Linked DNA regions of Homo sapiens. The protein of the gene in region 2 interacts with the protein of the main gene of each other region in a pairwise test. Each region holds a gene or a part of one and is shown on either strand. Other genes may lie near its edges. The genes, in order: ARL2 and TBL1XR1.

Region 1 (3,912 bases), on a different chromosome or scaffold from region 2:
GTAAGGACAGTTTTGGCCACAGCAGCAGCAAAAGCCTGATGGGAGTGTGTTCTTGAAAGAGCAAGAAGGCAGAAATGGGGGTGAGCACAAACAACTATTTTGAGATTTCCTGTAAAAGGAAAGATATAAATGAATAACTAGATGGGGCAGAGAGATCAAGGGCTTTGTTTGCTCTTTTTTTTTTTTTAATCAGACGGGGTCTCGCTGAGTCGCCCAGGCTGGAGTACAGTGGTGTGATCTCGGCTCATTGCAACCTCTGCCTGCCGGGTTCAAGCAATTCTCCTGTCTCAGCCTCCCGAGTAGCTGGGACTATAGGGGCCCGCCACCACGCCTGGCTGATTTTTGTAGTTTTAGTAGAGATGGGGTTTCACCTTGTTGGTCAGGCTGGTTTCGAACTCCTGACCTCAGATGATCCACCCACCTTGGCCTCCCAAAGTGCTGGGATTACAGGTGTGAGCCACCGCGCCCGGCCTATTTGCTCTTTTTAAGGTGGGAGAAAGAACGGCAAGCTCATCAGCCAGTGGGAATGATCAAGAGGGGAAGGAAACATGGATGATGGCTTGGGGGCAGGGGGTCATCAGCGGCTAGGTTCCAGGGGCTAAGGCTGGGCCTCAGGGGAAATGCCCTCCTCACCCCTCTCCTGGGCCTAGGTCATTTGCCCCAGCTCCGATGAGCAGGGAAAGGTGGTCGAGTCCAGGACCCGCCCACCCCACCATGCCCAACTGAGCTGCAGTGTTGGGAAGATAGAGGAGGGTGGTTCCTTCCACAGGTAAGCACACCCATTAATTTGCACTGTGCAGTAGCAGGTCTGGAATATTCCAGAAACAAATGAGGGTGGCTGCCTCCAGATATTTGTTCTTACCTTAGTTCTTCAAAAAGCTTGCTCCTTGTATTTTGGGTCTCAGCTCCAGACACCTCAGAGAGGCCTTCCCCGGCACCTGAGCTGAAAGAGCCTCCTCCGATGGCCCTCTTGGAAAGCCTCTCTGTTGTGTTGATGGCGCTAGCCGGGATCTGGCAGGGCCTTCTTTTCTCATTTGTTTGTACTTTATTGACTGTCTTCCCGCTAGAGTGTAAGCTTCCTAAGGGCAGGGCTTTGTCCTCTAGCACCCAGAAGAGGGTCTGGCACATAGTAGGTGTTCAACAAATTAAGGAGCCTTTGGTCAGTAGAGATGATATTTATAATTTGATACTTTCATATTTATTGTGGGCCGATTATGGTCAGGCATGTGCTCAACTCAGTTTGATACATGGTGGGAAATAATGAGTCCCCTAAGGGGCTCTGCAACAATGTCACCACCTGGCAGAGAACAGGGACTTCTCCTTAACCTGCTGCGCCCCAGTGGCCTGGACAATGCTGGAAAGACAACCATCCTGAAGAAGTTCAATGGGGAGGACATCGACACCATCTCCCCAACGCTGGGCTTCAACATCAAGACCCTGGAGCACCGAGGGTGAGCAGGGGCCCCATGGGAGGGCCAGCCCAGAGCAGGGCAGGGAAGGTGGGAGAGGGGCCCAGCTGACCCTCCTGTCACCCGCTCCTTGCCCAGATTCAAGCTGAACATCTGGGATGTGGGTGGCCAGAAGTCCCTGCGGTCCTACTGGCGGAACTACTTTGAGAGCACCGATGGCCTCATCTGGGTAGTGGACAGCGCAGACCGCCAGCGCATGCAGGACTGCCAGCGGGAGCTCCAGAGCCTGCTGGTGGAGGAGGTGGGCAGCTCCTACCCTTTGTGTACATGTATGGACGTGTGGCTGCCTTCTCAGCAGATGCCCAGAGGGGCCCGTGGCCCCAGAGGGAAACCAGAGGCAGGATCCCTTCCTTCTCTGGGCCCCCACCATGGGAGGCCCATGGTGCCAGAGGCAGGACACATGCTGTGGACTGAGATTGAGTTAACGTCCCTGTGGTGTTACTACGTCACTACCCTGAGCATCAGTTTCTATGCCTTGAAATGGTGATGATGACACCCACATCACTGGGCTTTAGGGAGGATAACCCAAGGCCAGTATGAAGCTTCGAGAGGCCATGGAGCCTGGCTCAAGAGTCTGACTCTTTGCTGTGTGACCTCAGCTGGGGGTGGTGGCACGCACCTATAGTCCTAGCTACTCTGGAGGCTCAGACAGGAGGATCAGTTGAGCCCAGGAGGTTGAGGCTGCAGTGAGCTGTGATCGTGCCACTGCACTCCAGCCTCCTGGGCGACAGAGCAAGACCCTGTCTCAAAAAAAAAAAAAAAGGAAGGGGCCAGGTGCGGTGGCTCACGCCTGTAATCCCAGCACTTTGGGAGGCTGAAGCGGGCGGATCACGAGGTCAGGAGATCGAGACCGTCCTGGCTAACATGGTGAAACCCCGTGTCTACTAAAAATACAAAAAATTAGCCAGGCATGGTGGCGGGCGCCTGTAGTCCCAGCTACTCAGGAGGCTGAGGCAGGAAAATGGCGTGAACCTGGGAGGCGGAGCTTGCAGTGAGCCGAGATTGTGCCACTGCACTCCAGCCTGGGCAACAGAGTGAGACTCCGTCTCAAAAAAAAAAAAGAAGGACACTTGCAAAGATAGTACAGAGGTCAGAGGTCCCCCATATACCCTTTACCTTGCTTCCCCATCTTACCTAACCGTGGCCTGTCCAAACTAATAAATCAACACTGGTGAATTACTATTATCTTAATTACAGATTTTATTTGAATTTCACGTTTTTCCACTAATATACTTTTTGTGTTCCAATGTTTGATTCAGGCTACAAAATTGCATTTAGTTGAAAATGAGGACACTTGTGAGAGTGAAAGGGGGGATTCTGCAGGCAGAGTGGGGACTGTCCTGGGCACACCGCACACATCTCCTATGTGGGTGGAGCAGGTCAGATGAGATCAGGGCCGTCAAATGCTGGTCAAGGCAGGTCAAGGCCCAAGGGTTAGACCCGTCCACCCACATCTCTCCCAATCACAGACACATATGTGGAAACAACTAGAATCAGAGGTGGACAGTGAGGCCTGTCGGGAGTGGAACGGTTAAAGGGCTGTGTGAACCCAGAAGAGGGAGAGTTCACATCCTCTGTGCATGTCTGGTCATCAGATTGGAGCAGTCTAGAACCACGGAGAGCTCAGGGATCATCTTATGCAACACCCCTCCCTGTTCATGGAAGAGGAAGCTGGAGCATGGGGACAGCGGTGTCCCCTGGGTGGTGGTTGGCTGGAACCAGAACCCTGGCCCAGGGCTGCTCCATTCATGTGGGCCAGCCTTGATGGCTACGTCCACAAACTCACTCCTGGGCCTCTCCCACCACCACGGGGCCTCACCTTGATCTTCCAGGTCGATCCTTCACCCCAGATGCTCTGGGCCATTAGAGGAGGGGTCAGGCTGTCCTCTGAGTCCCCACCCCACCCCTCTATCTTTTCTCCCCCAGCGCCTGGCCGGAGCAACCCTCCTCATCTTTGCTAATAAGCAGGACCTGCCTGGAGCACTGTCCTCTAACGCCATCCGCGAGGTGAGTCCAGGCCCCGGGACAGGCTCGCTGAGGGAAAGGGGCATACATTTATTTATTTTAAAAGCATTTATTAAAAATAACCAAAAAGGCTGGGTGCAGTGGCTCACGCCTGTAATACCAGCACTTTGGGAGGCCAAGGCGAGTGGATCACCTGAGGTCAGGAGTTCGAGACCAGCCTGACCAACATGATGAAACCCCGTCTGTACTAAAAATACAAAAATTAGCTGGGTGCAGTGGCGTGCGCCTGTAAGCCCAGCTACTCAGGAGGCTGAGACAGGAGAATCGCTTGAACCCAGGACGTGGAGGTTGCAGTGAGCCAAGATTGCGCCATTGTACTCTAGCCTGTGGGAAAAGAGTGAGACTTCGTCTCAAAAAAAAAAAAAAAAAGAAAGAAGTAAAATAATAATAAGAAAAGCATTTATTAGCCTAGCCCTGC
Region 2 (3,912 bases):
TGGTTGAAATAATTTGTTGGGTTTGTTCAATTTTTGGTGTCATTTATATAAAAAGAATAAAGAAGAATGTGAATGGTAGGAAGTCAGGGGAGAGGCATGGCAGAAACATTGGTATTCACTAGAACTTGTATTTTTCTAGTGCATGTGAATTGGACTCATTTCACAAATAACATTTACAGTATAAGTCACTGAAATGCAAAAAAGGAAAGCAGCTAACACGAGACATTTATACTTTATGCTCAGACATTCTGGTAGTAGAGGAGGGCTAGGACCCTAGAGCTGTGTAGTAAAGAATTGTTGAGTATCGTTCAGTTTAGGTACCACGAAGGTGGTATCTCCTGCTCTGCCACCAATAGAAACTTGAAGTTAAAAAGAAAAGACTCTGAGAGCGCTGATGCTGGAGAGATTTGGCTGTTTACCCCTCTGGGATTGGATTCGGTAAGAGTGCAATTAATTGCCCTGTAACCATAGAGCCAGAGGAGAGGGACTAGGTGCTCCGGGCTATGCTCTAGGAGGTGTGAGGTGCTTTCTATGCTGTTTATACCCTAGGCTAATCCTATGAGGTAGATAGTGTTGGGCTTTTTTTGTGGATGATGAAACAGAGATGCAAAGAAGTTAATTCCCTTGTTCAAGGCCACAAAATTATTAAATGAACACTAGGATTCAAACCTGGGTCTGTCTTAGATGACTGAATCTGCGGAATTTTCCCAGCTGTTTTGTTAGTCTTGATCCGTGTAGATCATCCTTCCAAAAACTTGTGTTTCTAATCAAGTTTATGATCTATAGTTGAGCGTCTGTACTAAATGGGTCGAGTGATTACATGGGTAAATGAAATTGATAGAACTCATATCATTGTGCTGAATTCCCTAGCACCATTTAATAAGATGCAGTCTTGCTGGGTGCAGTGGCTCACGCCTGTAATCCAAGCACTTTGGAAGGCCAAGGCGGGCGGATCACGAGGTCAAGAGATTGAGACCATCTTGGCCAGCATGGTGAATCCCCGTCTCTACTAAAAATACACAAATTAGCTGGGCGTGGTGGCGGGTACCTGTAGTCCCAGCTACTCGGGAGGCTGAGGTGGGAGAATCGCTTGAACCCAGGAGGTGGAGGTTGCAGTGAGCCAAGATCGCGCCATTGCACTCCAGCCTGGGCGATAGAGGGAGACACCCTCTCAAAAACAAACAAACAAAAAATTTGTGTAAGAAAAATCATTGAAGTCTTTGTGTTGTAGCATAGTGGTTAAAGTGAGTTCAAACTCAGGCTCTATCCTTTACTAGCTGTGATGTTGGGGTAGTAGCTCCTCATACGTTTTATTTATTTTTTAAAATTTTATTTTATTTTATTTTTTTGAGACGGAGTTTCGCTCTGTTGCCCAGGCTGGAGTGCAGTGGCGCGATCTCGGCTCACTGCAACCTCCGCCTCCTGGGTTCAAGTGATTCTCCTGCCTCAGCCTCCCAAGTAGCTGGGATTACAGGTGCTTGCCACCACTCCCGGCTAATTTTTGTGTTTTTAGTAGAGATGGGGTTTCAGCATGTTGGCCAGGCTGGTCTCGAACTCCTGACCTCAGGTAACGTGCCTGCCTCGGCCTCCCAAAGGGCTGGGATTATAGGCATGAGCCACATTGCGCCTGGCCCTAATGTGTTTGTTTCTTCATCAGTGTAAGGGGACAGTCAACTTTCATAGAGTTAAGAAGATCCAGTTAGTGTGTGAGAGGTACTTAGAACAATGGTTGACATTCTAAGCATCCTGTAAGTGTAAGTTGCTCCTGATAGGTTTGATTTTTGAAGTTTGTTTCTTTGTATTACATTTTATTTGCTTGTTATTTATTTTAGTAGGGGCATAATGTCATAGGAAGGATTTGATAGCTCCATTTCCTAAGTAACCCATTTGAAGTAAACTTAGCTTGGTTTTTTTTACTCTTAAAAAGTTGTGGTTTAAGGCTTACATATACTATGAATAATTTACATGATTGGTGTAGGTACGGTGGTGGATCTTTTTTGCATGCCTTTGTTGCTATTCTGTCATCTGGGTTGGACTTCTTAAGCCTACTTGCACCATTTGAAACATTTTTCAACTTACTTTCTTTCTTTTTTTTTTTTTTTTGAGATAAAGTCTCACTTTGTTTGTTGCCCAGGTTGGAGTGCAGGTTGGAGTGCAATGGCGCGATCTCCTCTTACTGCAACCTCGCGCCTCCTGGGTTCAAGCGATTCTCCTGCCTCAGCCTCCTAGCTGGGATTATAGGCATGCGCCACCACGCCCAGCTAATTTTTGTATTTTTAGTAGAGACGGGGTTTCACCATGTGGTCTCCATCTCTTGACCTTGTGATCTGCCCGCTTTGGCCTCCCAAAGTGCTGGGATTACAGGCGTGAGCCACCGCGCCCAGCTTCAACTCTTTTTTTTTTTTTTTTGAGACAGAGTCTTGCTCTGTCACCCATGCTGGAGTGCAATGGTGCGATCTCGGCTCACTGCAACCTCTGCCTCCCGGGTTCAAGCGATTCCCCTACCTCAGCCTCCCAAGTAGCTGGGATTACAGGCGCCTGTCACTTGCCTGGCTAATTTCTTGTATCTTTAGTAGAGATGGGGTTTCACCATGTTGGTCAGGCTGGTCTCGAACTCCTGACCGCCCGTCTCGGCCTCCCAAAGTGCTGGGATTACAGGCATGAGCCACCGTGCCAGGCAAACTCTTTAAATACAAAGGGAACTCTTTCAAGGTTTGGGTCCAGCAGAACCTAGGGTCTGCCTTTTAGGCTGTAGTGATTACTTTGGGTAGGTGGTTTTATTTTATTTTTCCTGACCACTTTTTATCTGTGTATTCTTTTCCGTATTATCAGATGCTGTCTAGATAGTTGTCCTTAGAAGTTCAGTTCCTCTATGAGCCTTATCTTATGTTCACTTCCCATTTTTAACCATACTTAATTTAGCACTAGTGTTCACTTTGCTAATAGTCAAAAGTTCTATGTATCAGGACTATACAGGTGCTTTGACAAGTACTGTGACAGTCTGAGTGCTGATGCCTGAATTTAACAGTGAGAAAATTGAGGCTCAGGTAGTAGGGGACAGAGCAGGAATTTAGGCCCAGTTTGTGTGAATTCTAGGCCAGTGTTGTTACCTAGCAGTCTGTCTTCTCAATGAATGAATGGTTGTAGGTCTGGATTATTAAGTTTTTATTTGGTTGCCCTGAGCAACCTTTCTTATTCATTTTATCTTCTGTAACTACTGACAGTGTAATTTATTTAAAGTACTGGTTTCATCTTGTCAGTTCCCCTGCTGGAGAACCCATAATGGATTCTCTTTGCCAACTGGATTGAATTTGTATGCTTCAGTCTGGCTTTTAAGAAGGTTCCATTCTACCTATTCAGCTTTATTTCTCACTCTTAGTTGGGATTCTTGCCGGCCTCTCAAATACGGTAGTTTTTGCCATACTCACTACTTTGCTTTTGTGCATGCTGTTGTTCCCTTTGTCCTTCTTATAGCCTAGTTTCAGTCCCCCTTCTTCCATGAATCCTTTTCTGGCCATCCTGACTCAGGATATTTCTTCTCTGAGATTCCATTGCACTTAATGAAGATCACAAATCCCATAACTGTTTATTGTTTTGTTGCCCCAACTACGATGTTTCTTGAACGGATGGACCTTTTTCCTTCCAGCATTTGGCAGAGTTCTTAATACCATTTTCATGTTAAAATGGATTGTGAGGGCCTGTGTTAAAATGGGAGCAGTGACAGCCCTGTTCCACTGTAATGTGGCAGCATCTTCTTTTTGAGTTAGACCTTAAAGATTTAGGTGTGCTATAGTCACATTTAACTGTTCATTTAAATTTTAGTGCTGCCAGAGTTGCAAAGGAAGAAAAATTTGTTAGTTTCTTAGATGAAAATGGATGGTTTTGACTGGGTACGGTGGCCCACGCCTGTAA

What was found.
Region 1: the proteins of TBL1XR1 (region 2) and ARL2 interact in binary tests that used the Homo sapiens proteins (3 or more experiments, as listed by UniProt).

Annotation. Positions count from the first base shown.
Region 1 is NC_000011.10:65,017,024-65,020,935, forward strand, and holds part of ARL2 (ADP-ribosylation factor-like protein 2), read left to right. Parts: intron 1-1,340; coding exon 1,341-1,451; intron 1,452-1,481; exon of another isoform or gene 1,482-1,547; coding exon 1,548-1,710; intron 1,711-3,395; coding exon 3,396-3,476; intron 3,477-3,912. UniProt on the Homo sapiens protein: Small GTP-binding protein which cycles between an inactive GDP-bound and an active GTP-bound form, and the rate of cycling is regulated by guanine nucleotide exchange factors (GEF) and GTPase-activating proteins (GAP).
Region 2 is NC_000003.12:177,190,590-177,194,501, reverse strand, and holds part of TBL1XR1 (F-box-like/WD repeat-containing protein TBL1XR1), read left to right. Parts: intron 1-3,912. UniProt on the Homo sapiens protein: F-box-like protein involved in the recruitment of the ubiquitin/19S proteasome complex to nuclear receptor-regulated transcription units. Plays an essential role in transcription activation mediated by nuclear receptors.